Homo sapiens: one gene and its partners. The protein of the gene in region 6 interacts with the protein of the main gene of each other region in a pairwise test. Each region holds a gene or a part of one and is shown on either strand. Other genes may lie near its edges.

Evidence for each region.
Region 1: the proteins of ASPH (region 6) and RCN1 interact in binary tests that used the Homo sapiens proteins (3 or more experiments, as listed by UniProt).
Region 2: the proteins of ASPH (region 6) and PRAP1 interact in binary tests that used the Homo sapiens proteins (3 or more experiments, as listed by UniProt).
Region 3: the proteins of ASPH (region 6) and SPINK1 interact in binary tests that used the Homo sapiens proteins (3 or more experiments, as listed by UniProt).
Region 4: the proteins of ASPH (region 6) and TXNDC15 interact in binary tests that used the Homo sapiens proteins (3 or more experiments, as listed by UniProt).
Region 5: the proteins of ASPH (region 6) and SDC2 interact in binary tests that used the Homo sapiens proteins (3 or more experiments, as listed by UniProt).
Region 7: the proteins of ASPH (region 6) and ENPP6 interact in binary tests that used the Homo sapiens proteins (3 or more experiments, as listed by UniProt).

Annotation. Positions count from the first base shown.
Region 1 is NC_000011.10:32,089,381-32,094,110, reverse strand, and holds the start of RCN1 (reticulocalbin-1 precursor), read right to left. Parts: upstream 3,038-4,730; 5' UTR 2,915-3,037; coding exon 2,661-2,914; intron 1-2,660. UniProt on the Homo sapiens protein: May regulate calcium-dependent activities in the endoplasmic reticulum lumen or post-ER compartment.
Region 2 is NC_000010.11:133,350,060-133,353,324, reverse strand, and holds the end of PRAP1 (proline-rich acidic protein 1 isoform 1 precursor), read right to left. Parts: intron 3,231-3,265; coding exon 3,164-3,230; intron 1,945-3,163; coding exon 1,892-1,944; intron 1,319-1,891; coding exon 1,185-1,318; intron 1,079-1,184; coding exon 885-1,078; 3' UTR 642-884; downstream 1-641. Other genes in the region: ZNF511-PRAP1 readthrough, read right to left, coding at 885-1,078, 1,185-1,318, 1,892-1,944, 3,164-3,230. UniProt on the Homo sapiens protein: Lipid-binding protein which promotes lipid absorption by facilitating MTTP-mediated lipid transfer (mainly triglycerides and phospholipids) and MTTP-mediated apoB lipoprotein assembly and secretion.
Region 3 is NC_000005.10:147,828,580-147,833,297, forward strand, and holds the start of SPINK1 (serine protease inhibitor Kazal-type 1 precursor), read right to left. Parts: upstream 3,093-4,718; 5' UTR 2,999-3,092; coding exon 2,944-2,998; exon of another isoform or gene 2,830-2,943; intron 2,292-2,829; exon of another isoform or gene 1,926-2,291; intron 1,052-1,925; coding exon 1,020-1,051; intron 1-1,019. UniProt on the Homo sapiens protein: Serine protease inhibitor which exhibits anti-trypsin activity. In the pancreas, protects against trypsin-catalyzed premature activation of zymogens.
Region 4 is NC_000005.10:134,894,660-134,898,613, forward strand, and holds part of TXNDC15 (thioredoxin domain-containing protein 15 isoform 1 precursor), read left to right. Parts: intron 1-1,634; coding exon 1,635-1,765; intron 1,766-3,954. UniProt on the Homo sapiens protein: Acts as a positive regulator of ciliary hedgehog signaling. Involved in ciliogenesis.
Region 5 is NC_000008.11:96,496,518-96,500,415, reverse strand, and holds part of SDC2 (syndecan-2 precursor), read right to left. Parts: intron 1-3,898. UniProt on the Homo sapiens protein: Cell surface proteoglycan which regulates dendritic arbor morphogenesis.
Region 6 is NC_000008.11:61,515,333-61,519,286, reverse strand, and holds part of ASPH (aspartyl/asparaginyl beta-hydroxylase), read left to right. Parts: intron 1-1,163; coding exon 1,164-1,255; intron 1,256-1,625; coding exon 1,626-1,759; intron 1,760-3,954.
Region 7 is NC_000004.12:184,088,513-184,092,466, forward strand, and holds the end of ENPP6 (glycerophosphocholine cholinephosphodiesterase ENPP6 precursor), read right to left. Parts: exon of another isoform or gene 3,585-3,954; intron 2,871-3,584; coding exon 2,665-2,870; 3' UTR 194-2,664; downstream 1-193. UniProt on the Homo sapiens protein: Choline-specific glycerophosphodiesterase that hydrolyzes glycerophosphocholine (GPC) and lysophosphatidylcholine (LPC) and contributes to supplying choline to the cells.

The DNA of each region.
Region 1 (4,730 bases), on a different chromosome or scaffold from region 6:
AAACAGGACCCATAATTTCCAGCACCTCCTACCCCGCCTCTACCCCACATTTAACCTACAAGTGAATGGTGCATCCATCACCCATCTGGTGGCTAAGGCCAGAGACCCGGATGTCCCCTTGATTCCTACCTCTCTCTTCTCCCCCTCATTGAGTCAAGAGCAAGAGCTGCCAGTTCTGCCTCCCACTGGTGTCTAGATTCATCCCCTCCTGGAATCCGGAGAGACCAAGCCCCTTTGGCATTCACCTCCTCTCCCTGCCACTGGTCTAGTCTGTGCCTTGATTATGTTCTCTGTGTACTGCCCTCCTGCCAGCCTGACTTTCCCAATGAGTTTTGGGGATTATGACATTTTGACAATGTACAGGATAACATCTCATGTCCATCTCACCAAGGTCCTTCCTGCTCTGCCCTTGGTTTCCCCTCCATTCTCACCTCTCACTTCCCTTCCCTGCCCCTTTGCAGACTCACCACCCCTCATGCCCCAGAACGCTTTTCAAACCCTTTAGAAATGGGCTGTTTTCTCTTCAGGAAGGCCTTCCCCTGCTGTACACCTGGCAACCTCCAAGTCATCCTACAAACTCTGATCAGGTGACAGCCCCAATCCCCTCTCTCTAACCTGCAGCCTTGGCGGCTCCTTCTCCTGAATGTGCTCACAGTAGGTTTTATAGGCCATCATTGCAGCAATTGTGCATAATGGCTAGTTTGTCTGTGCTTCTCTCCTCCACATTTGCTTACAAGCACTTCGACGCCCAGAGCATAAGGTTTCATCTTTGTACCTGCCAGTTATCTAAACTGGGGCCTGGTACACAGTAGCCATTCAAATGTTTGTTGCATGAATAAATGAATGAAGTCAAGGTGTTGATACAAGGATCAAATCCAGACCAACTTCACCGTCACTTTTTCTCACTACTAGGCTGAACTGTCACAATGAAGGCATTAACTGGAAGCTGCATGACCACACCTTATAAAGTTTTCCAAATCCCAAAACCTCTCCCTGCCTCCTCTCCAGTGACAATGTGGCTGCCACTCAGGGCTCCAGGATAAATCAGTCTCCAAGTGCCTCAAAGCAATACAATAGACTGAACTCATCAATGGCCCCTATTGTTAAGTCCTAACTGAGAAGAGAAAGTACTCTGCAAGATAAAAGGTAATTGTTTGGAGGTGACTTTGAAGTTCAAAGGTCTTTTTATCAGAGCAGGCAAATGGTGCACCTACACAATAGGTATAATTTATCCTCATATTCCAATGAAACACTTTGGCCTTTGGAGGCCCCCAGGAGCACAGGGATGGCTGTGTTCTCTTTCATGTGGCAGAACATGAAGATCCTCCACCCCCAGGAATCAGGTTCAGGGAGATCTGAGACCTGGTGCCCAATAGGCAGGACTGCTGGTTTCTTCCCCAGCCCTGCCTCCATCTGGGACCAGGCTGCCTGCTGGGTCCTCTGTGCAAGGACCACCAGATACCTCCGCACAGTGCCCAAGTGTTTCCTCAGGGGACCCGGGGAGGGTGTACTAAAATGCGCCGAAGTTTTGTTTCCCGGGTTTGGTTCCTGACTCAACTGCCTTTAACAGCCCAAGTCAAAATCCTCCACCACCAAGAGAACCCTCCAGCTTTTTGCCCCCCAAACAAATCAGTTGCCAAAGAACTGAGTGCTTCTGCAGACATCTGCTGCCAACAGAAACGTTTCAGGCGAACCGTTTCCATTCCTGCTCCCTCGTGTTTCCAATCGGAAACTGCGTGTCCCTTTTCAACCGGATTTTTGTATCCCTACACTAGATTTTATTTTATTTTTATTTTTATTATTTTTGAGATGGAGTCTCACTCTAGCCCCGGCTGGAGTGCAGTGGCGCAATCTCGGCCCACTGCTACCTCCGCCTCCCGGGTTCAAGCGATTCCCCTGCCTCAGCCTCCCAAGTAGCTGGGATTACAGGCGTGTGCCACGACGCCCGGCTAATTTTTGTATTTTTAGTAGAGACGGGATTTCGCCGTTTGGTCAGGCTGGTCTCGAACTCCTGACCTCAGGTGATCTCCCCACCCCTCCCCCCGCCTCGGCCTCCCAAAGTGCTGGGATTACAGGCGTGAGTCACCGCGCCCAGACTCCTTACGATAGATTTACAGGGCGATTAGGCAAAAGGCAAGACCACTGCGGCCGAGACCAGGAAGCAAGCCTGTCGCTCGCCTGCCCCTTCATCTTTTATCCATTTATGTTCATCCCTGAGATTTTCTTAGCGAGTGTCTCAAGCCCTTCTCCCCGGGAGTGGGGGATCAGAGAGAAACTGCGAGAGAGTGGGGAGGAACTCATGGCACTAACAGGCCACTGTGGACAAACTCTTCTTTTGTGCACTCTCCCCTCCCTTCTGATGCAACCTGGGGGAGGGGGCGGGCCCTCGCCGTCCTGGCTCCCGCGGCCGCTGCCACGTTCTCGCCTCCCCGCGAGAAACCACCCCGGCCGGGGCGCGGCGGCGGCGATCTCCAAGCTGGGGTCCCGGGGCCCTCCAGCAAGTTAGCCTGAGCCCCAGCGCCGAGTTGGGCAGGGCCCCATCCTCGAGGCCGCGCGCGCGATTTCGCTTTCGCTTTGGCGGTGGTATCCCGCGTGGCTCTCGCCCAGGCGGCCCTCGGACACCTGCGCCGCCCCCCACGGGGCCCTGGCCGCGGCCTCACCCTAGCCTCTCCTTGCTCTCGTCCGGGGTGAGCTGGTCGAAGGTCTTGGAGTCCTCCTTGCCCAGGAAGGCCTCGTGGTCGTACTGGAAGCTCTGGTTGTCCTCAGGGGGCCGCTCGCCCAGCTCCGAGTCGGGCCGCACCACGCGCTCTTTGCGCACCGTGGGCTTGGCCCGCAGAACCCGCGGCGCCAGCACCAGCGCCAGCAGCAGCCCCAGGGCTAACCCCAGGCGGCGGCCGCGGCCACCGCGCGCCATCGTCCCGAGGAGAGGGCGGCCGAGAGGGAGACGCTGAGCGAGCGACAACAGCGGCAGCTCGGGAATGGGGACTCGGAGCGCGGCGGCAGCGACAGGGTTGGGGCCGGCGCGGAGGAGGGGACTGGCCAGTCCCTCCGCCAGTGCCCGCCCCGAGCCGGAGCAGAGGGGCGCGCCTGGGCCTCGGGCTGGGAAGCTGCGGGCGGCCCCGCTCGCGCGCCCATTGGTCGCTGAGCTGCCGGGGGAAGCCGGGGCCGCGGAGCCACGTCGCCAGCTGGGGTGGTGGGCGCGGGGCTCGTGTTTCGCCTCGGCCCCTCCCCGCGATCTTGTTGCTAGGGGCGGGCCCGGGCGAACTGGGCTAGGGACTGGAGGGCTCGGAGGAGGATTGGGAAGTTCTTTGTCAAGCAACAGATGTGCAGGATAAAATTCCCTCTGACTTCCTACAGTTCCGGGAAAACTGTAAGGAAGGAGACGTTGCCCTTCCTCAACTTCCAACTGAGACCCCGAATCTCAGCCCTAGACCCTGCTCTAAGATGTGCTCTCAAACCCAATTCAACCCCATTTAGTAAAATTTGGAGTCTGGTTACAAACGCGAGCCTGGAAGGAGACCAAGACGGGCGAAGTCCCCTAGAAACGAGGGTCGTACTGTCAGTCGTCAAGGAGGGTCAAGCGGGGAACTTCTATATGACCAAGAGTCCCTCTAAAGGGAGCGGTACTGTGCGTTCCAGCTGCCAGGGGAACGCAGGCCCCACGCTGATAGATAGTCCTGTTTCCCAAATGAAATCAATCAGGATTTTAGATTTTTATGTTTTATTTCTAAATGTTGGTAACTCATTTTACAAAAGCACTAGTTGGATCCAATCTTACCTGTATTCAGTTGGTAATGCTACCAATACAGATATCTGTCCCATCAAACTTTCTGCAATGATGGAAATGCCCTCTATCTGGTCTGGCCTGTAGGTAGTGGCTGTTGAGCACTTGATGTGTAGCTTAGTGTAAGTGAGGCACTGAAATTTTAATTTAAATCTAAACTTAAAGAGCCACACGGGACTAATGGCTACCGTATTGGACGGTGAGGTCTCGAGCAGTCTCAGCCTTTTGACACTCATTGAAAGCCATGATCCTCTTCCAGAAAAATGCACATACAGCTACTGACACGGGTGCTTGATTAAAGAGTCGGAGGATTCATGGATCTTTTGAAGCCCCACCTATGAGCCCCAGGTTAAGAATCCCTAGAAGGCCGGGCACGGTGGCTCATGCCTGTAATCCCGGCACTTTGGGAGGCGGAGCCAGGTAGATCACTTGAGGTCAGGAGTTCGAGACCAGCTTGGCCAACATGGTGAAACACCGTCTCTACTAAAAATACAAAAATTAGCTGGGCGAGGTGGCGGGCGCCTGTAATCTCAGCTAGTCGGAGGCTGGGGTAGGAGAATCGCTTGAACCTGGGAGGCGAAGGTTGCAGTGAGCCGAGATCATGCCATTGCACTTCAACCTGGGAAACGAGAGAAACTCCATAAAAAAAAAAAAAAACCCTAGAAAACTGAAACGATAGTTGAAGAGGGAAACCCACCATGACAGCTAAATATCTGTACTCCTAGAAATTTCCTCCATCTTGCCTTGCCTCCCACCTCCATCCCTGATGTTTTCAAAAAGGTCTGGGATGTGCTTCTTGCCCTTGCAATAAAGATGTCGTCGCAACATAGACGCAAGTCCCTTTCTTGGGACGCCCTCTTTCAATCAATTAATAAATCATTACTGTCTTACTACTACAGCCTAAGCACTGGACTGGGTGCTGAGGGTACAATGGAGAACAAGATAA
Region 2 (3,265 bases), on a different chromosome or scaffold from region 6:
TGCAGCATTGGGCCTGCTGGGCCAGGAGGACAGGATGGGCACCCAGAGTGGGAGCTGCACAGAACGTCAGGAGGGCAGAAAGGCCATGTCCTGGGCCTGGGTCTACCCGCCCTCACCTGAGACCTGTGCACTTTCCACCTGAGCACATGCACGTCCGTTCAGCTGGGCCCTGAGCCCCAGGCACTCGGCCACCCTCCTCCCCGACCCTGTCTCAGGCTCCTGCTGTAGGGAGCCCAGGGTGGGTTCTGTTTCTCAGCTGAGACTGGTCCCAGGGTGCCCTCTGGTCCCATCCCCTAACTGCTGCCACACCCCTCACCATCCCGGTATACAAGGAGGAGGGCCTGGGGGTAGTGCAACCTTCTGGGAGCCAAGGGTCACCTGGGCCTTGTGCAGCCCTTGATTCTCCTAGGCAGGGCAGGCTGGGCCCCGGTCATCGGTCTTCTGGGGCATGTGGCCTCCCACCTGTTTGCAGGGGTTGATTGATTGATTGATTGATCGATTGAGATGGAGTCTTGCTCTGTCGCCCAGCCTGGAGTGCAATGGCACGATCTCAGCTCAATGCAACCTCCGCCTCCCAGATTCAAGCGATTCTCCTGCCTCAGCCTCTCAAGTAGCTGGGATTACAGGCACCCGGCACCATACCCGGCTAATTTTTGTATTTTTAGTAGAGACGGGGTTTCACCATGTTGCCCAGGCTGGTCTGGAACTCCTGATTTCAGGTGATCCGCCTGCCTCGGCCTCTAAAAGTGCTGGGATTACAGAGGTGAGCCACCGCGCCCGGCCTGCTGGGGTTTATTTGTCTAGCTGGGGCAGGGTAGGGAGGGTCCCAGTCCCAACAGCCTGGGCCTTGGGACAGGGCGGGGGCAGTGATGGCCCCTGGAGCCCTACTGGGGGTGGTAGATGTGGTCTTGGTCTTCCTCCGGTCCCAGGAGCACCTGGTGATTTGGCATCACCCACAACCGGGGCCTCTCCTCGCCCTGGTCCTCCTCAGGCGGAGGGTGGTACAGGCTGTCATGGTCGGGCTCGGGACTCAGGACATGGCCCAGGGTGTCCTCGGTCTCCATCCAGGCCTTGGTGCCTAGGGACAAGCACATGAAGGTATAGTCTCAGTTTCTTTCCCGAGACCCTTGGTCTGTCCAAGTCAACCCCACGAGCGGACTCTGCTGCTGTGACCTTGTGCCCACCTGGAAGGATGGGGCCCCTGCCCTGACCTCGTGGCTTCTCCTCGGTGGTCAAGAGTTTCGGCTTCTGGACAGGGAACAGCACCACCAGCTGGTCGTCCTTCTCCGGAGGCTCCACCACACGGGCGCCCCAGGCCCTGCTGGCACAGTTTGGTCAGGTCCACATGCAGGTGGGGGAGGTGGACAGAACCCCCCGCAGGAGGGTGCCCACCATCCCAGGGCAGCCACTCCAGCCCCACCACCAGCAGCCCCAGGACAAGCCTCTCTCTCAAGAGCCAGTGATGAGTGGCCCCCAGTGCTCCCGGCCAGGCTTCCACACCACGTCCCTGGGTGGCTGCGTGGGGAGCAGTGGTCAGAGCCTTGGTTGAGCAGTGTCCCAAGGGCAAGGATGTGGGGAACCTCAGGATCCAAGACTGAGCCGCCCCAGCTACAGCCACCAGCCGTGGAGCACAAGCTGCCCTGGAGGCTGTGGGGAAGCTGAGTAGGGAGACACCGTGGAGCCCCAAGCCCTCCGGCTGTGCTCTCTTCTCCCTGCATGGGGCGCTGTTGACAGATGCCCATGAGGCTGGAGTGCCCCCTCCTTCCAAAAGCTGCTGGACAGGGCTCCTCTCTGCATCTGCCCCGTGCTCTCCAGGTTCAGGAAGGGCCCAGCAGAACGGGCTGTAGCTTCAGGGAATGGGTGGTGGGGAGGTGGGGTTGGGGGGACTTACTTCTCTGGGTCCTGCTCTGAGGGCCAGTGTTTGACTTGCATCTTGATAGGGACCTGGGGGAGAGTCACAGGTGTGGGCTGGGCCACAGTCCACGCGGGTGGAGGACACCTGGGGAGAGGTTGCTCCGAGGCCCACCTGGGGCTGCATGGGGTGGAGGTGGCTGCAGGGGGTGGGGGCAGGGCCAGCTCAGCACAGCTCGAGCGTCTCTAGTGGGCAAGCCACTCTCGGGTGTTGGGATTGCAAGCCGGGATTGAGGTTGCCGGCCTGTGCCCAGATGACCAGCTGGCCTGGAATTCTGGCCGGGTCTGGGGCAGCACAGGACTGGGATGTAACCTGGCACCGTATCCCTGACCTAGCACTCCCAACCCTGGCCGTCAATGCACTGGCTGTTTTCTGCAGTGACTGGTTGGGTCTGTGTCTGCACCACCCCTTCCTGGCTGGTGCCGAGAGAACGCGGTCAGCCGCTCTGAGCCCAGCTAACCTTAGTTGTCAGCTGCTCTGAGCCCAGCCAACCTTAGTTGTCAGCTGCTCTGAGCCCAGCCATCCTCAGTGGGGCAAAGGACAGACAGGAGAGCAAAGCAGGTGACCCCAGGGGAGGACCAGTGGCTCCAGGGGAGGACCAGCACCGTGGGGGGGCTGTGCCCATGCTCCTGCGTCTCCAGTCAAGGAAGGCGTGGGCCTCCTTCCTCCCGATCCATCCCAGGTGTGCAAGACTGTGTGGCCTTGACATGGGCCAGGGAACAGGGCCCGTCCCCAGGCATAGTCCCGGCTGAGGACACCACTGTCAGCACAGACAGTGCAGCTGAGCCACTAGCACATGGAGTCACCTCTGGCCTTCAAGGCCCAGGTGAGTATCAAGGGGTGTCATCCGGGCCCTCCTCCACCTGGGTCACATGGGTTCATCTGGGATCACCTGTTCCACTTGGGACCACGTGGGTGTCATCCGGGCCCACCTCCTCCACCTGGGGTCACGGGGGCTCATCTGGACCCACCTCGTCCACCTGGGGTCATGTGGGCTCATCTGGACCCACATCATCCACCTAGGACCACCTGGGTGTCTTGAGGCCTGTCCATCTGACCCCAGGGAAGGGAAGCCTGCCCCCTCCTCATGCCTGCACAGGCATCAAGAGTCATGAGCGTACCCATGCCTCTCTCCCCTAAGCCAGCTTGGGGTTTGAAGCCAGAAGAGGGGCCCTTTGTCCACATCCCCTGCTGTAGGGGCAGAAGGTGACAACTGGAGTTGCTGCCCAGATGGGAGGGGCTCACACCTACCTTGGGTGCTGGGACTGCACCTGCCTCCCACAGCAGCACAACCACCAGGCTGGTGACCAGGAGGAGCCTGAGGGGGGGCCAGAGAGGGAAGTGTGAGGTAGG
Region 3 (4,718 bases), on a different chromosome or scaffold from region 6:
TTGTCGGGTGTTGGAAGTCTTTGCATTCTACTCCAGTAAGAGTTTATAATCATCAAATGATTGTCATTGTCCTAGACATTGTTCTAGTGCTTTTTATATATTATTCTGTTTAAACCTCCTAACTATCCTGTGAACTAAGTATTATATTCTTCTTCAGGTGAAGATAATGAGGCACAAAGCAATAAAATTAGCCAAGGCCACCCAGCTAAGGAATTCCTAAATTCAGAATTCAAACCTAGTCAGAGTTCCTGAGCTTTAGCTCTTAAGTACTTTATTCTACTACATCTCCCCACCAGTTTTGTTTTACTAACACTCATTTTTTTTTTTTGGCTCAAAATAACCCCTCAGTTACTTCGGAGCACCCTCCCTGATTTTTCTAACTAGGCTAAGTTCCTAACGGCAGCAGAACTTTTTCATAACACTTATCACAAATGTAATATTGCATTCATTCATGAACTTTTGGTCTATCAGCTGTCTCTGACTAGATATAAATGTACTGAGAACAGGGACACTTCTTCCTCTGGTCTCCAAATTTACTGAAATTACCTCTTAAACAAAAAAATATGAAAAGGTTAGAGTTAGAATATTTTTCTAGAAGGAGAACCTAGTTTATTATTTTCTGTCATTCATTATAAATTAGAGCCACACCTTGGTGATTGGGAGAGCTGCATGCCAACATGGTCAAACTGGCTGTAAGGAGGAAGGGCTACTTGGAGTGAAGTTGAGAAGGCTTCCACCCCAAATACTTGTCTACAGCTATCACTAGTCTATATAAAAACCCCTTCACAGCAAGCACTGTAGGACTATATGGAACTTGCTTATACATCAGTGAAATTGTCCTTCAATATACGCCTGTGGGTTGGAACTACTACTACCATTTGCATTTCTCACGTTAACCCTCCCTAGCATTCATACTCCTCTTAACTTCAGGCTAAACTGAAAGGTGACAGCAAGGCTGCATTTTTGTTGGATCAAACTGTTCCAGTCTGAGAAATAAGAAATTACAAATATCTCTTTACCTCTCTTCCCAGGGAGTCAGCTCCAGTGTTACCTAGAAATAAATCAGATATGGTAAGTTGGGTCCTAAATGAAAGAAGTCAGATCTATTCTTCATCAGAATTCTCTGCTTTCATTGCAGACTGTGACTTCTTTACTAGGCTCTTTCATTCCCCACCCTTTCTGATTTCTCTAATCTTCCAAAAGTATCTGACTGATTTTCCTGTACCCCTTCCTTGGCAAAACCTTAAAAAGTTTGAGTAAAACTTTGATTATGACCAAAGTATCTCGATTTGATGTTTTAGGAAGTTGATCTATTTCCTTGAAAACAGAAATTATGCACTTACTGCTGGAAATGAATCAGGCACTGAGCAAATTATCTTTTGAATACTCACAAACATTCTCAAAACCAGTTACTAGATCTTTAATCTCACAATTAGTGAAGTATAATTTTTATCTCAGTTTACAGATGAAAGTATGGAGAGTTTTTATAACTAGCTGTGAAACAGTTATCATAAGCAGTAACCAGGTCTTCTGATGCAAAGTTAGCTTTTTCAATTACATTTAAATTCCCTTTTGTAAGTATTGTTGAAAAAATAGAGTTCTTTTGCCAACTCACTATCAGTTCCCAAAGAGCTATTTCCAACAATTGCATCATATGGACTATGGGTCTAACTCACATTTGTTGAATTTACAGGTAGTCAAAATAGCTAATCTCTATTCCCCCAGAAAATAGCAGAGGTTTTGCTGACAACATATAGGAAATGATAACTGTGGATAAGTTCATGGAAGGGAAAGGGAACTAATATGATAGCAATCAAATAAGGAAACATTCCTGAAAATTAATTTTAATATCATCAATCTTTGAGGTGATCTGAGCAAAGAGGTAGTTCTTTGTATCTAAATGTAATGAAAATTAGTGAGGCATCTATGAGCTTGGAGAATTTCCCCCGGGATAGTCAGAACTTGATGTTGTTGGGGGCCCACTGGCTTTTAGAATCTAGTTGAGTCTAAAAACTGAAGAGCAGGTGCTCATCACAGGCATCTATTTGTATTAATTAACATGCATGAGGAGGGGGAAAGGGAACACTGACTGTTGCCATAAATATTCAGCAAATAAAACAAACAATATTCTTCCTCTTCTTAGCAAAGTGCTGATTTGGCTCTCCACAGGATCCTTCACTACATGAGAGGTGAAGTTGAAAATGTTAACCATTTCCAGTGATAAAAAGGAAACTGATCTTGGCTCTGCGGGTTCAGAGTTGTCTGTCAACATTGTCAAGATGCAGTTGGAGGTATATGTGCACCATCTATTCAAGCAGAATATTTTCTTTCAAAACATTCAAAATGTGTAATGTAAATACACAAAATGCAATTTTTGTATTTCCAGATACTAATAAGAAATACCAGGAATTGAAAATAAAAAATTCCCTTTATATCACATATATTAGCTATTCAGGGATAAATCTGACAAACTATACATGATTCAAGTACACTGAAACCTATACAATAAAAAAATAAATTTTTAATCAGTCAAATTATGCCTTTTATACTGAATAACTGGAAGCCATTTATCTATTTTATGCAATCCCATGAGAATTTAAAATTTGTAATTTGGCCTTACACATTTACAGAATGAGAAGTATACTTAAAGTTAAAATATTTTTACCCTTTTTTCTCTACCATATCCCAACAAAGGGTCAGCCACATCAATAGAGGAAAACCATTTTATTTCTGGGAATTTCTTACTAGTAGAATTGTTTTCCTTATAGTAGGTTAAAAATTCCTCTTAAAAAATAATTCTTACCTGTTGATTTTATTTCATCTCATTAGGTCCAAAACATCTCTCGAAGACTAGACTACATCAAAAGTCTAGAAGATAATGTGCTTCACAAAGCAACAGGTCAAAACAGTTTTATTTAAATTTGAAAAATATGCAACACTTACCAGATAGACTCAACAGGGCCAAGGCACTGAGAAGAAAGATGCCTGTTACCTTCATGGCTGAAGTTCTGCGTCCAGAGGTCAGTTGAAAACTGCACCGCACTTACCACGTCTCTTCAGAAGCCTGGGACTGGAAGGGTCATATGGCAGATGGCAGCAAGGCCCCACCTACTGGGCTATATCACAGATCTCCCTGGTTATTGATTGACTCTGTGTCATAGCCTGGCCTCCAGGTTCTGGGAATGTCACCTGTGTAAGAAAGGTGAAAGGAGCCAGGTGGGCCTGAAACATGCAAGGCAAAGATTCTGTCAGGAAAATAGTTCTAGTGGTTAGTTTGATCCCTAACTCCCTCTGTGGTTGTGGGAAAGTCATTCCCTTCTCAAGCCTGTTTTCTCACCTGTAAGATGAACTCAAAGATCCCTTCTACTCTGTAGTTCTGGATAGATGAGCAGGTATGGATAGCTACTAGAAAGAATTTTATTCCAAGTAGGGTAAAACCTCTCCATTCTTTTTTCCTTTCCTCCACTCTTCCTTTCTTATTCTTCTTTCTCTTTTCTCTATTTTTCCCTCACTCATTCACAAAACCTAAAGTAGCTGATGGAGTGGCAGATGAGAGGGAAAGAGAAAGCAAGAGAGAGAGAGGACTCAGTTCCCTAAAGCGTGTATTCTGGAGCTAGAGGGTGCTTGTTGGAGCCACTTTTGCTGTGCTTCTGTGTATTCATCTGGAAATTAAAATAATAATAACACCTAATTCAAAGGGTTACTCTTTCATCTGAGAATATGTGCTGGGTAAAAGAGAATATGTGCTGGATATCTACCATGTGTTATTAGAAGAGAATTCTCCATCCTCTCTCATGTTTTGGTGTGTCTTATGAGTAGAGGTACTGATAACCTTTGTTTCAGACTATCTTTTTAAGGGTGTTTATATAACAAACGACCTTAGAAAATACGTAATGTCTCCCTCTGCACCAAAAGGCAGGTTTGTTTACTGTTTAGTGTAATAAAGTTAATATCTCCTTCTAGGGCAAAGACCATGTTAATTGCCCTTTACAAAAGATTTCGGGTTTTTAAAAGCTTGGCCTTTCTTTCCTTTAACACACTGTACTTTCCCTGCAACTATCACTTGATGCCCCTTAAATTGGCCTGTGGAAATTGGGGCTTGGGAAACCAGAACAAATTCCAATACTCTGGCTGTTGCTATGGAATAATTAAGTCCCTTTTCTCTGAGCCAGGAGTCTGTGCCTTCTGCCAGAAACCATTATAATGTGGCAGGCTAACTTCTTAGCTTCCAAGTAGGATAAAATCTCAAACCCTTCCCAAGTCATGACAAGAACTGTATTTATCTCTTAAGACAGATCAGTAAATAAAAATAACAATCTCTGTCTTCATGGAGCTTCCATTGCCTTTTTGTTGAGGGAGGCAAGTGACAAAAAATAATAAGTGATTATAAAATATATCAGATAAATATTATGGAGAAAAGGACAAGAAGGATAAGGGTGCTGGAGGGTTAAGGAGATATGTATCATAGCGTAATCAGAGAAGGTCTTGCTTTTCAGGTGATATCACACAGAGACATGAAGGAAATGAGGATTTGAACTATGCATTTATTCCAAGGATGTGCATTCCAGACAGAGAGAATAGTAAGCGCAAAGGTTCTGAGGCTGACGCTGGTTTGACATGTTTGAGAAACATCCAGGAGGACACTCTGGCTTGAGCAAAGTGATAGAGGGCAAAATGGGAGATGAAATAATGGAAGCAGTGAGGGTCTAAATCTAGTG
Region 4 (3,954 bases), on a different chromosome or scaffold from region 6:
TTTTAAATGTTTAGTAAAGTAAGTTACAGAGAACTTTGTTGAGATGGTATATGTTTCTCCTAAGTGCTGCGATTGTGCCTGAGTTATAAACTGTTCTTCTCTTCCAAATCAGATGCTCCTTAGTAGGTCAGCCTCAACAAGGAGGTTGTGTGTAAATAAATCTAGAACATCTGAAAAATGGTCAATTGGTGGTAAAATGAAGTTGAGTAAACTTCCATTACTCTGTACTTGAGGCCAGGTGCAGTGGCTCACACCTGTAATCCCATCACTTTGAGAGGCCAAGGTAGAAGGATTGCTTGAGCCCAAGAGTTTGAGACCAGCCTGGACAACATGGCAGAACTCCATCTCTATAAAAAAAAATACAAAAAATTGACTGAGGATGGTGGCACATACCTGTGGTACCCCAGCTACTTGGGAGGCTGAGGTGGGAAGATTGCCTGAACCAGGGGAGGTCAAGGTCACAGTGAGCCGTGATCCTGTCACTGCACTCCAGCCTGGGCTACAGAGTGAGACCCTGTCTCAAAAAAAAAAAAATTGTATTCCACTGATTTTCATTGTGGGAATATAACTGCCAATGTTTACCTGAAACTTTTATGAAGAAAGAAATGGCTCAACAAATTAGTAATTTTCATATAGGCTTCTGGGTTATATCTAAGTGACTGGGCCCAAGGGAGCAGACTGATTGGAAGGACAGATCACGTCAGTGTCCAGCTTTGGTGGGGCCTCCACTGCCCCCAGGCATACTCAGTGCTCTTTGGTTCTGGGTCTCACACTGTCCCTCCTGCCTCTCCCGCAACTCCCTCCCTAACCTGCTTTCTTCTTTCCTTCCTTCAGCTCCATGTTGTATCTTAATTATGGAGACTAAGGCTCTTGCTGTTATTATATGGGCTGGGACATGTTTGCTTCTTATGTTAATATTTAAGTTACAGCATGTGTACAAAAGAAAAAAATCCTGGTTATACACTATTACTATTTTACTAATGCGGAAAATTGAGGCTTAGCAAGGTTAAATAATCTGCCCAGAGTTCACATTGGTTCAGTGGCAGAACTGAGGCTTCAACCCAGAGTGTTTTGACTTGGGAGCTTATCACCACTAGTCTGTATTATGTAAAGGTGAAATAAGCCCGCACAGTTATATTCCTTCTAAACAAGTCATCCTGCCCTAATTGTGAACATCCTGGTGTGTTTGTTAGATCATATACTCCCTTGTGCCAGCTTACCAAACCAATTGCCTACTGTAAGTTGATCTTTTTTGAGGGACAGGGATGGGCATTCTGAAGAGTTGGAAATTTTTTCTGTCAAATAAGTTGACACAGTGTGCTTTGTCCATGAATTAGAGTTTTCTGGTCTGGTTTGTTTAGACAGGAACTTAACTAGTGGAATAATTGTGCCATTGGTAGATCCATATTATAATTGAAAGCAACTCAGATTGCAGAAAAGGAGTGCCCCCCAGCCATGACCCATAAGCAAAGAGGTCAGAAACAAATGAAAAAGCCAAAAGTTTCAAGTATCAGAAATCTCCGTAGGTCACACGCAACTTCCTCATTTATTTCTGTCTATTCTGAGATGGTAATTGTATGAGAAAGCCCTCTATTAATAATAAATTCAGGTTTTTTGACTTCTTTCTCTTGTAGCCTTTCTACCAGGTTTGGCACCGTAGCTGTTCCTAATATTTTATTATTTCAAGGAGCTAAACCAATGGCCAGATTTAATCATACAGATCGAACACTGGAAACACTGAAAATCTTCATTTTTAATCAGACAGGTATGTGGAAGTAATGTGCTGAGGAAGAAGATATTCTATTGCTGGGGGTCTGTGCCTTCTGTGGGTTCTGATCTGCTATAATCCTTAAGTGAAGGATTCAAGACTGACTTTGAGTTGTAAAACTTCTCTTCTAATGAACTGTTATGATCCTGTTAAATACTTCCCAATCAGTATGAAGTTTAACATGAATAGGTAATTTTAATTATTATAGATACTTTTTTTTTCCCTTTTTTTTTTTTTTTTGAGTCTTGCTCTGTCGCCCAGGCTGGGGTGCAGTGGTGCGATCTTGGCTCACTGCAACCTCCACCTCCCGGGTTCACGCCATTCTCCTGCCTCAGCCTCCCGAGTAGCTGGGACTACAGGCGCCCGCCACCATACCCGGCTAATTTTTTGTATTTTTAATAGAGACGGGGTTTCACCGTGTTAGCCAGGATGGTCTCGATCTCCTGACCTCGTGATCCACCCACCTCGGCCTCCCAAAGTGCTGGGATTACAGGCGTGAGCCACCGCACCCAGCCTTTTTTTCCTTTTTTTTGAGGCAGAGTCTCACTCTGTTGCCCAGGCTGGAGTGCAGTGGCATGATCTCAGTTCACTTCAGCCTCCGCCTCCTAGGTTCAAGTGATTTGCGTGCCTCAGCCTCCAGAGTAGTTGGGATTACAGGCGTGTGCCCAGCTAATTTTTGTATTTTTAGTAGAGACAGGGTTTCGCCTTATTGGCCAGGCTGGTCTCGATCTCCTGGCCTCAAGTGATCCACCCGCCTCGGCCTCCCAAAGTGCTGGGATTTTACAGGTGTGAGCCACTGTGCCCGGTCTATTATAGATACTTTATTGTTTGATTGACTGAGACGGAGTCTCGCTCTGTCACCCAGACTGGAGTGCAATGGCATAATCTCAGTTCACTGCAACCTCTGCCTCCTGGGTTAAAACGATTCTCCTGCCTCAGCCTTTCTAGTAGCTGGGATTATAGGTGCGCACCACCACACCTGGCTAATTTTTGTATTTTTTAGTAGAGACAGGGTTTCGCCCTGTTGGCCAGGCTGGTCTTGCACTCCTAACCTCAAGTGATCTGCCTGCCTTGGCCTCCCAGAGTGCTCAGATTACAGGTGTGAGCCACCGTGCCTGGCCTATTATAGATACTTTAAAACAAGTGTTACTGAAATATAATTCACATACCATACACTTTACTTATAACTTTTAACGCACATTTTTCACTTAATATTTACACAAAGATATGCATAAGTCATGAGTGTACAGGGTGATGAATTTTCACAAAGTGAACACCCTGGGTAACCACTCTGATCAAGAAACAGAGCACTGGCTTATGCCTGTAAACCCAGGAGTTTGGGAAGCCTGTGCGGGTGGATCTCTTGAGGCCAGGAGTTCGAGACCAGCCTGGCCAACATGGCGAAACCCTGTCTCTACTAAAAATACAAAAACTAGCTGGGGATGGTGGTGGGTGCTTGTAGTCGCAGCTACTCGGGAGGCTGAGGCATGAAAATTGCTTGAGCCCAGGAGGCAGAGGCTGCAGTGAGCTGAGATCACAGTACTGCATTCCAGCCTGGTTGACAGAGTGAGACTCCGTCTCAAAAAAAAAAGAAAAAAAAAAAGAGAAACAGAACATTACCAGCCTCCCTTCAGCACCACTGCTCCTGCCTTCCCCAAAGATAAAGATAACCACAGTCTTGACTCCTAATATCATAGACTGTGTTACTTGTTTTGGACTTCATATTAATGGAGACATGCAGGATGTTTTATTTTGTGTCTGTTTTTTTCATCCAACAGTATGCTTGTGAGATGCACCTGCATTGTCATGTATGGTTATGTTTTGTTCTTTTTCTTTGCTGCTACTGTTCCATTTATTAATCCATTTGTAGATGCTATCTTAGTTCCTTAATATTTGCCAAAACATATGGCCTTATTTTTTATTGTTTGTAAAACATTGTAAAGCATTGTAAATTGAAAAAATTACCTCCATTGGAAAAGTTCATTCCTCTAAAGCCTCACTGTCTCAATTGTGAGCATCCCACTCTTCCCAAAGTATGCTCACTGGAAATAAATAAAAATTATAACACACATTGCATATATATTAAATTGCATATAATCATTTTAGCTAACACTAAAGAAAAAAGAGCTGAGTTGGCTGATAGGAGTAAAAGTAGGATATTACAAGGTGGTTAGCTAGTCCAAGTC
Region 5 (3,898 bases), about 35 Mb from region 6:
TGCTGGGATTACAGGCATGAGATATCGCGCCAGGCCACATTTCCACACTTAAAAAATAAAAATAATCCCTTTTCTGCCCCCAGATCCCCAAAATATACTCACTACCCCTGCCACCTCATTCTAAATGACCAACGGCATACCAACGCATGATACAGACTAAATTCTAACTCTCTCCTTCCCATGTGCTGGAATCTCAGCACAGCCTCAGGGAAGAGGAGGAGGTGTGACTGTGCACAGCTGATGTGTCAAGACGTTACATCAATGTCTTCTTTATTCTTGACACCAACCCTGCAATGCTGATGACACTGAGTGCAGAGGCATCAAAACTGGACAACTAGCCCAGGTCCACTGGGGGCTGGTGTATTCAGTTGACCCTGAACCATAATGCCTTCAGTGGCCAGCGTGAAACTTCTTCAGGAGTGCCAACCAACCCCAAAATGTCCAGGCCCACGGGTATCTGCACTTCAGCATGCAGTGTCAACAGATGTTTACCCAGCTCAGCACTGCACAGGAGTAGGAGATTTGGAAACATGGTTTCTTCCTATAGCACTAACCTTGATGGGAGAGAAAATTCACCTATTTAGAATGTCAGAGAGGTAAGAACATCTGACATGGCTCCCTCATTTCATTCATTTCATTGCCAAAAAAAAAAAGGCCAAGAGAGGAAAGGAAGAAAAAAAAATGTCCTATCTTCCGTGCCTCAAGCACCATTCATATGCTCCCTTCATTTCATCTTCACAACAGTCATGTTATAAAGGCATTCTTAGGTCCAATTTACACACACACACTTTTTTAAGTGACTCAGAGCTTTAATATACTGTCCAAGTTCTGACACATTAAGTGGCAAGGTACCAGCATCTGAACCCAGACTTGTCCACCTCCCAAGCCCAAGCCCTTTGTATTCTAAGCCCAGCTACTGCTGAAAACTCTAGTAGTAACATAGAATAGCACATAATTAAGGGGTAATGCTGTGATCTAGACCAGCGATTCCCAAATTAGTCTGATTCATTAGAATCATCTCAGTCGCTTTATAAAAATACAGTTTCCCCCACACTCCCACCCCCATTCAGGTTTCTGATTGTGTAAGTCTGAGAGGAGGCCTGAAATCTGTATTTTCACATACTTTCAATGATTCTGATCATCAGTATGCCTTGCTATTTACAGAAGGATTAAAAACAACAGGGCTGGATCAGCCATGAAAAGGTATTTGGAGCTTGCATTTAATCAATAGCATTTAAAAGGAGAAACACTGAAAAAGTAGCAATGTCCAGGGAGTGTTCATGATAGTGATATCAATGGGCCAGGGCTGGGAGATGTGGTGGAAAGTGATCAAGGGGGTAACCAGAAAGGAAGGCTATTATGGGGCCGCTTATAAATCCAGCAGAGGCATACAGACTATATGCCATGATAACAAGGACACGGAGGTGTCTAGACCATGGGCAACATGATCAAAGTGGTGGAGGACAAACCAAACTGCATGCAAGTGTCTGGGCCAGGAATGGCAACTACAAGGCTACTGACATAGAAGCACAAGCTGGCATGCCCCCAAGGAAGAAAAAAAGAGGGAAAGCTCTTCATTTGAAATTTTCTGTCCCATCAAGATTAGTGCTGCAGGAAGAGACCAATGGCCAGGCATAGTGGCTCACGTCTATAATCCCAGCACTTTGGGTGGCCGAGGCGGTGGATCAGCTGAGGTCAGGAGTTGGAGACCAGCCTGGCCAACACGTTGAAACCCCATCCCTACTAAAAATACAAAATTTAGCCAGGTGCAGTGGCATGTGCCTGTAGTCCCAGCTACTCGGGAGGCTGAGGCAGGAGAATCGCTTGAACCTGGGAGGTGGTGGTTGCAGTGAGGTGGCTGCAGTGAGGTGGTGGTTGCAGAGTGCCATTGTACTCCAGCCTGGGTGACAGAGTGAGACTCCATCTCAAGAGGAAAAAAAAAAAAGATTAGCGCTGCAGGAAGGGACCACATTTCCAAACCCCGACTTCTTTGCAGTGCTGAGCTCAGGTCAGGAGCTGGGTAAACACCTGTTGGTGCTGCATCTTTAAGTGCAGGTTCCCATGGGCCAGGGCATTCTGGGGCCGGTTGGCACTCCTGAGGAAGTTCCACGCTGGCCACTGAAGGCATGAAAAAATGAACGGAAAGATCACTAGAATGCAAGCTCCAAGAAGGCAGGGGGATATCTGCCTGGTTTGCTCACTGCTTTACCTCAAGCACCTAGTAGGTATGAAATAAATATCTGCAGAATGAATGCACAGCTGGACTTAGAGGCAGACTGGACGTGGAAACCAACAAAGATGAATGAGTCCAGGGCTTCTTCAAGATTTAAATCCAAATGATTAGAATGAAAATGATAGTACTGTCACAGTTGACTAAAAAAGTTAAATAAGAGTAGATTGGTTTTAGCAAAGATTCTTCTTCATTACTTCTGGCTTTTCTCTAAGACTTTATTTTGGCCTCTAGTCCACGAAAAGAATTCAGTGGTTTGGAGATTCTGCAATGCACCCTTCTGCCTTGGGAAGAAGAAAAGGATGGGCAAAATCTTTTAGTTTGATTTTTGGCAATGGAAGAAGGACAATCTAGTGAGAATCTAAACCCAGATGGCATTCCTCACAGGACAACTGGATCCCCACCAGCAGGTATGCCAACAGCACAGTGGCTTGACTGGACTTGCTATAAACCTTAATGACAGGGCTGGTGGGGCTCTGTGTGACTGGGTCAGCTTCAGGGGCCTTGCCAACCTAAGGAGACTCCAAGCCACCTCTAGCTGGCCAGTCAGGTCTCTGGGGGCTTTTGGAGACTTGAAAACTAGTTCCACCCAGGGAACAAACCAGTTCACCTTTTGAAATCCTTTCCAAACTAATGATTATCCAAGGCGCCATTTAAGTGATCATATTACACAGGGTAGGCTACCCCTCGAAGGGTGGTTACCATCAAAACTAGACATATCAGGTCCTAAAAGCAGAAGCTGAAGGGCATGCTCAAATTGCTTCTCAGACATCCATTTTCTGCAAGCCTGATCTTTCAAGATCTTTCCTTCTTAAATGACATCCTCCTTCTGCTAATACCCAACTAAGAGAGAAAGAGCCCTTGTTTTTATAAAATTCCCTAGCAAAAGCAATTTGTTTCACTCATAAAACAGCCAAACTATATTTTCTAAAGAACTGCAAAGTTACATGATTTCGATTTTAGTTACCCTTCTAATGCAAACTTTCCAGAGCCTGCCTTTCATAATACACCGAGAGATAATGCATGGGCCCAAATGACTTGACAGTTTCTTTTAATTTACAGACATCTAAGAATGTTTATAAAATTCCTCTAGTTCAAAACACTTCCTTTTCTTAAACATATTTCCAGTTCAAATTATGTGTTTATAGCAGTCTGCAATATATTATTTCTAAAGATAAACAGTCATGTACAAAATGGACAGAAAACCAGCAGCATATCACTACTGCCACACTCAGTCAGATTTTCCCCTTGCCTGGTGCTCCGCAGCCAAAGTCCTAACCTGCCAGTGGAAAGTATGAATGGATCACTAGGAACAGGCTTTCCCAGCTGCCTCCAGGATCCATAAAGGAACAGCTACCAGTTCCTTTTCATAGGCAGTTTTGAGCCTTAGTTCCTGAGAACCTCTTTTTTACCCCCAGAGCTAAGTATAAAACTTAAGAATTCACTAACTGTAGGCAGTTTTCCTTTCTTCCTTTAAAGGGAGACTTTAAACCCAAATCACTACTTCTAAATCCCAGGAAACAGTTGCAGTTTTCAAATTAAAATGCAAAGTCCTGGAAATAATATTCTGTAATTGCTAATTTTTTTTTAAATTCAGTCTTTTGACTTCATTTATATTTTTGCTGCTATACATGAAACAAACGGAGACTGAAAAGTAATTTAAATGGA
Region 6 (3,954 bases):
GCATGAAATATATATAGGTACTAATCTATTGTATCATTTACTATATATATACAAATCTATTATAAAGAAATAAAATTTATCAACATATGCATGGAAGCACTTACAGACCATACATAGCACCATTCATAGTCAAGAGAAATGTAAACAAACATGAAGATGCAGTGTTAAATCATAACTCCATTAAATTAACTGTAGTACAGATTATACTACTGTAATAATTTCATAGCTGCTTCCTGTTGCTATTCGGCAAGCTCAAGTGTTTTCAGTATCTGCTTAAAATACCATGTGATACTGTCGTCTCCATGTGAGCAGTTCCTCTCTCTGGTAAATTGCATATCACGGTGAAAAGTGGTCTCTTATGGTTCTTGTGTATTTTTCCTTGTGTTTAATGCAATGCTGCAAACCTCGAATAACACCATGGGACCTATACAAAGAGCAACTAATGATGATGGACACGCTGCCAAGAAGCAGAGAAAAGTCATGACCCTACAAGAAAAAGTTGAATTGATTGATATGTACTGTAGATTAAGGTCTGTACCTGTAGTTGCAGGCCATTTCAGACATTCAATTCATCTTGTAAACAGATGATGTAAACTTATGGTATCGATAAAATACCGTACAGTACTGTAAAAGTATTTTCTCTTCCTTATTATTTTCTTAATACCATTTTCTTTTTTTCAGCTTACTTTAGTGTAAGACTATAGTATAGAATACATATAACATACAAAATATGTTAATCAACTATTTATGATATAGGGTAAGGCTTCCAGTCAACAGTAGGCTATTAGTTGTTAAGTTTTTGGGGAGTCAAAACTTAACATGCATGGAGGATCGAAGCCCCTAATCCCTGTGTTATTCAAGGTCAAAGGCCTTTAACCTGTGTCTTGTCTGTTAGACATTCTTAGTCAAATAGTCCAACACCGAGTGAAGAATTTGGATCCCTGCTCTGCCAGTCACTACCTATTGGAGCAAGACACGTCTTCTTTATTGATAAATTTTTATTTATTTCCAATAAGCCTTTTGCATTCCTACTTCATCTTCTCATGTTTACTCAATCTTCTCATTCCTGCAGTGAGGATGACATATAGCTCTCACCTCATCTAAATGGGATAAGTTTAAGCTTTACTGTGATTTGTTTCCAACAATTATGTTATTTATTCTAGGAAGAAGAAATGAAAATGCCTGCAAAGGAGCTCCTAAAACCTGTACCTTACTAGAAAAGTTCCCCGAGACAACAGGATGCAGAAGAGGACAGGTACCAAGAGTGTCGTGCTGGGGAGAATACAATTAATTGTTAGGAATAAGGGCGTGTTGACCTTTACAAAGAAATGGTTGTTTCCTTTGGCCCAATGAATGCCTCTTTTTACATGCCCTTTTTACTGAAACATAATTTTATGTGGTTGACGTCAGAATTGAGGGTGGAAAATGTTCAGTGTTTATAGCTTTGTGGAAAATGTGAGTGCTTATTTTTAGTTCCTTCACAAAGAAATAAGACTTGAATATAAATATTAAATCTTACAAAGGCTCTAATCCAAACTGACAGTAATTTTGTACTGTCACCTTAACTTAGCAGTTCCTCCACACCTTGATAAATGGCTGAATGGAGTGTCATGTTTTCTATGCAGATCAAATATTCCATCATGCACCCCGGGACTCACGTGTGGCCGCACACAGGGCCCACAAACTGCAGGCTCCGAATGCACCTGGGCTTGGTGATTCCCAAGGAAGGCTGCAAGATTCGATGTGCCAACGAGACCAAGTATGGGTCCTCTGTTATCCGTCATATCCGTCACCTCAGAGGATGAGAGTTTGTTACAACACAGTTGTGTTCCTTTGGATTACTTATCTTCTTTTGTAGCTGAAGTAGACTGGAGCAAAGTGATATTAATCCAAACTCTTAAGTCTATATCCCTTCTTGGTGCTTTCTATTAGCCTGGAGACATTGCCCAGCTCTAGGGCTGCCCTCCTCCATTATTTCTCGGCAGAGTACTTATCTAGTTGAGGAGCTGCCTTGTTTCTCTCTCTGGGTAGACAGATGTGCATTCAGAGTCAGCCAACATGCATTGAGCCCTGCAGATGTTATGCATTGTGCTTCCTGCTTTGCAACTTGACTTATTCATGACTACAAGAAGTACCCCTAACTGAAGAACTCACCCCATGATATTTATACGTTTTGATATAGAGGAGATGGTATGGTGCAATGGAAGCTGGCTGCCTTTTTCAAATCCCAGCTCTAACACCTAACCTGTGTAACCTTGGCTAGTTACTTAATCCCTTCAAACATCAGCCTTCTTGCTTATAAAATTGGCAGTGATAACATCTACTTTGCAGGGTTGTTGTATGGATTAACTGGAATAATGCCTATAAGGTGCTCAGTCCATGTTCTGGTATCAGTCGGGACGTGATGAATGTTAGATCTCCTCTCCCTCCCTTGCGTGTTACTTTCCTAATCCTGACATGTTTATTCATGATCTTTTGAACAAACCATACTTGCTCTGGCTTCTGTACCTATGATGCTGATAATCTCTGTCCCTAGAATGCCCGTCTTTTCACCTGTCCAAAATAAACCTATTACTAAGATCCAATTTAGTTTTATAAAAATAGAACCTCTCAGAGTATATATCCTCAGTAATCCCATTCCTATCTTCTATTACTCTTTATTCATTAATATATATTACCCTTATCTCCATAGCAAGCTGTATGTAAGCTCCTGGAGATCAGAAAGCAAGTTATTGTTGTCTTACACATTTCTTATTGTTCTTAGTAGAGGTCTGAGTGGAGGATGAGTGTTCAGGGGTCTGCAGAATTGTCTATTTGATTATTGGCAGATAACTGCCCTGGGCAGCCCATGGTGCTGTGGGAAATTCAGAGATGACTCAGAAGGGGCCGTCCTCTTCTGAGGACACCTAGCAAGGTGTGTCTGCTCAGGAAGATAACACAAGATTGAAGGCCACCGTGGTCATAGAAGAGGTACTACAGATGGCCTCTCTACAGATAAGCTAAAAATACTACAGATGGCTCCATGAGCAGGAGCCTCACCTGCTCACAGACACTCAACTTGCAGAGTGGTGGTTTTTAAAGACAAGAAGGATTCGGACATTGAAAGCTAAAGAGGGGTATTCTGGAACAGTATCCATTAAAGGCACAGAGGCCAAAAATTATGGCCACATATGAAGAATATTGAATAATAATTCAGCAGCCAGCAGTGTATGGTACATAAAGAATAAGGTTGCAAAGTGAAAGAGTCTTTTAGAAACTAAATCATAGGAGGCTTTGAATCCCAAACTAATGGGATCAGACCTTTGTTAGGAAGTTACTGTGGAACCCATGGGTGAATCCTATGGGGACAGTGGGAAGAACAATTAGCAGGCTGTCACAGCAGCCCACCCAAAAGATAAACAGAGCTGGAATTGGGATGCTGGAAAGAAATGGAGACTAGAGAGCAGATGCAAGAGGTGACTCTTGAATGTGTGATACAGGAATGGGGCATCCAAGATGCTGCTGCAATTGCAGTCTTTGGACAGTGGAGGGTGGCGATGCTTGAGCAAACCTTGGGAATTTGGGAGGCATGAGGCAAGTTCAAGGAAAGGAAGATGAATTTAGTGCTTATGTATTTTATTTAGTTGCTATTGGAACACACTTGTAGAACCATCCAGGAGGTGGCTGGAAATAGAGACCTGGCACTCAGGGGAGAAGGTAAGTCTAGAGATAAAGATTTGAGAGTCAGACTTATCAGGAACTTCTAGAGGAAGCTTGAGACAATCGAAGGATGACAGAAATGAAAAGGTTCCATGAAAACATCTGTATTTAGAAGACGGAAGGAGGAAGGAGAACCAAGAAGGAAATGGGGCAAGAAAGGCAAAATCGGGTAGACCAGGAGGAGGAATCAGGGATCACTGGACAGGCAGAAGTTTCTTCAGGCATGGAATGAATCTTGTCTTACACTGGGAACTC
Region 7 (3,954 bases), on a different chromosome or scaffold from region 6:
TCCTGGAATCAGCCGTGAAGTTGAAAAGTAATCCAGGAGACAAAGTGTCTATACATATTCCTAGCAGATTTTAGTCCTATGGAAAAAAATACATTTAGAGAAAGTGGAATTTTCCTAAGGAGAACAATGTAATTTTAAAACAAAAATAAAAGGGAACAAATTTTCACCAAATAATTAAGCCATAAAAAATATATGCATTATTTAAGTAAAAAGCTTTATTTTTTTCCCTCAGTGTCTGAATCTTCTTTATTGTTTACCAGGATTCATGATTCCTTTTGTAACTTGTTCTCAGTCATTTATTCAGTTGAGTAATTACACTTTGTCAGACAAATATCTAAAGTTTTATTATGTAACTTGCAGATTTTCAGGACGAGTGAAGGAGGAAAATGGCAGAAGAGTTCAGGAAAGACAAAAATGCAAGACTGTGTCTAAGTTTATGCCTCTCTTGAGTTTGATGATCCAATTTTAATTTAATCATTTGAGTATCTCTTAGGGATTCTTCCTCCACAGTGGAGGAAAGTGGGCTCTACTGAATTCATTGGAACACCGTCCTTTAAGGAGAAAGAAACTTTGAACAATAGACGTCTTTTTCAACAACTACTGCCAATGTTTTGAAAGTTGTCATTTGTTTTCAGCTAGATAACAAAGGCTGAAGAGTTGCCTTCTTTCCAATTGATCCGATGGTTTACTGGCGCTTTTAAAACACATTACATAAATCTTTAGAAATCTTTTGTGAAGGTAAATTCAGTATTTTTAAGCAGTGATCCTTTGCTCTCATGATTCATGGCATGGAGACAGCACCCAGCTTTCCTGAATCAAGGTGAACGTTGATATTCAGTTTTCAAGGTAACACACCATATAAGGCCTCCATCGTCCTGAGGAGACCTGATATATTGCCTTTTCCTGACAAAAAGTCTCACTTGCAGATGTACCTCAATTAGTGCAAACTTTTTTTTTCTTTCTATTTTTTGGGGGGGGTGGAGGATGGGGTCTTGCTCTGTTGCCCAGGCTGGAGTGCAGTGGTGTGATCAAAGCTCACTGCAGCCTTGACCTCCTGGGCTCAAATGATTCTCCTGCCTCAGCCTCCCAAGTAGCTGAGACCACAGGCATGTGCCACCATGCCTGGCTAATTTTTTAAAAATCTTTTATGTTTTGTAGAGATGGGGGTCGCCCTGTGTTGCCCAAGTTAGTCTGGAACTCCTGGCCTCAAGGGTTCGTTTGTCCCTCCTTGGCCTCCGAAAGTGTTGGGATTATAGGTGTGAGCCACCATGCCCAGCCCAAACTCATTTTTTAATGCAGTGATAGTGTATGCAAGTATATATATGTATATAGATATAAATGATCATGTAAAAAGGAGTTATTTCTTGTGTTACAATTTCTCCTATAGCAAACACAGATGACTAAGCTAAAAATATTTCAACTCAGGCTCAGTGGCTCTTCTCAAAGGTATCAAAAGAACTTAGGTCTCAAAGGTGGTACTTTGGCCAAACTGTTTCCTAATCAAACGACCAGTTAGTTGGTCAGTGACTGGGACTCTGCTCCATCATGCTCTCTCCATTCTCCACCCAGCACCATTTTCTTTGGAATTCTATGCCACTCAAAGACTGTTGTTGAGCAAGCCATGCTGCAGGGGTACTGGTGTCCAGGATTAAGGCTTAGTGCATCACCTCTCTGAGCAACCCACCGAGATCCTTGCTGATGCCTCCACATTCTCATCAGTGAGCCAGCCCTTTCCCAGGCTATAATGTCATGTCAGGGATTGCTCTTGTCTGCACCCTATATTGGGAGCCACAGAGTGGCATGTCTGAGGAAGCCTTTGCACAGGTGAACGGACAGGGAAGGCAGGCAGGCCATCCATTTGTCCATCAATATGCAGGGCCTGCTATGTGCCGGGCTTCATGCCACGATACACTATGTGTGATAAGTCTCACAGAAGCCCATGTCCATCAGAAGCTTTTCTGCTCCTCAAGGCAAGAGAGAAATTTTCGTGCACTCAGACTTTGGGAGGGCACTCATGTCTTTCACCTTGTTCTATGAGTTCTCCAATCCTTAGTGATTTATTTATTTTTTGATTGATTGGTGATCCATGCTAAGTTACGTCCTTTCTGGAGCTCAGTATAAGATGAAAAAATTCCATGAGCTGGGTCAGAAATAGACAGTAGCTTTTGCTTTCATGTAGACCTCCTTTTATCAGGGATGGAAGGAACAGTACAGGATTGTGGCCACAGACACTGAGGATGGCTCCTGGGTGTGGACAGGGCACAGACAAGGGCCTGGTCTGAGGGGGTCCTTTGTGCAAGGTGGGACAGAGAGGGGCCCAGAGCCACGTCTGTCTGCAATAACCACTCCAAGTTTGGTTGCTGCAGGAGCAGGTCCCTGCTCAGAGAGTTCATCCTGAGTAACGTGAAAAGAAAGGAGAAAATGACATATAACTGCACAAATGGAAAGCTAGGATTTTCCTACCTTCTGGAAAAACAAGGTTTGTATCTTTTTTAACAAGTAGGAACTTTTATGTATAGAATTATCCAAGAATAATGTATTTACAATGTGCATGGTCTTGATTGTGTTAATGAAGCTATTATTCACACATAAAATGAAAATCATCTGGCTTTGGAGGCCCACTTTGCTGATGGTGTTTTTTTCTGAGACAAGCAATATGATCAGTTATGCAAGCAGGAAGAGAAGAATCAGTGCCAGGGCACAGTGGCTGGGCCAGACAGGCGGGGCAGTGCTGGCGCGGCCCTTCAGCATGCACATCACCCTGGACCAGGATCCGTTGTTGGGCAGCGGGGTGATGCCCACCACATTGCACATGACATTGTAGACGTCCACCGACCTGATAGGAGCAGCTCTGAAGTTGGATTTGAAATCTGAAAGGGAAAGGCAAACAAACAAGTTGTCATGGCAGCTCCAGGGCAGAGGTGGGCTGAACGCAATAAAGAAGAATTACATTCAGGCTGCAGGTGACATTGAGATTAGGGAATCAGCTCCATCAGTGGGGTGTGGCCTAGTGAGTGTGAACATAGAAGGGTATCCGGAAGGCTGTAGGTTAGAAAGGGAAACAGCTTTCTATGGCTCATGGAGATGAATTTCTTTAAAAGACAAGCAGCAGAGCCAGGCTTGGGGGCTCACACCTGTAGTCTCAGCAAGTTGGGAGGGCGAGGAGGGAGGATTGCCTGAGCCCAGGAGTTTGAGACCAGCCTGGATGACAGAGCAAGACACTATCTCTAAAAAAAATTTTTTAAACCAGGCATGGTGGTGTGCTCCCAGCTACTCGGAAGGCTGAGGTAAGGAGATCACTTAAGCCCAGGAGTTCAAGGCTGCAGTGAGCCATGATAGTGCCACTGTACTCCAGCCTGGGCAAGAGAGCAAGATCCTGTCTCAAAAAAAGGTAATCAGCAAACAGACTTTCTTTGTGCATAACTGTGCTCTCTTTGTGACAACAGCACTTTCTTTGGGGGCTGCGGGGAGGCTGAAGTGCCATCTGATGCTGCTCCATGTCTGCAGAGAGCACAGCAGAGCCTGTATGGTCACAGAGTGACTGTCTTGCCCTTAACCAAATTAAATGCTATGTCATTTTTCAGAACATCTATCTAGCCCGGACCGACAGCCAGAGTGCCAGCGTCTACTGCAGAGGCCGCACGGCAACTCAAGAATGTTTTCTCACTTTGCTGCCCCATCGAGGTCACAGGTCTTGATGGAATGTGAAACTGCAGTTTTCTCGGTGCTCGCTAGCTCAGCAGCCATGGCGATGGTTTCCTAAATACATTTGGAAGATGAGTGGAACACTCTTTGGGAGCATTTTACCAACAGATAAAATACATTAGCCATGTGGAAAATGAGCAAACTGGTATCTGAATCAGGGATCCATGTGCAGGCTCTGAGCGATCTAATGGAGAAGACCACTGTGCCTCTGCCCAGAGTGGCCCCAAGCTCGAGAGTCACGCAAGAACA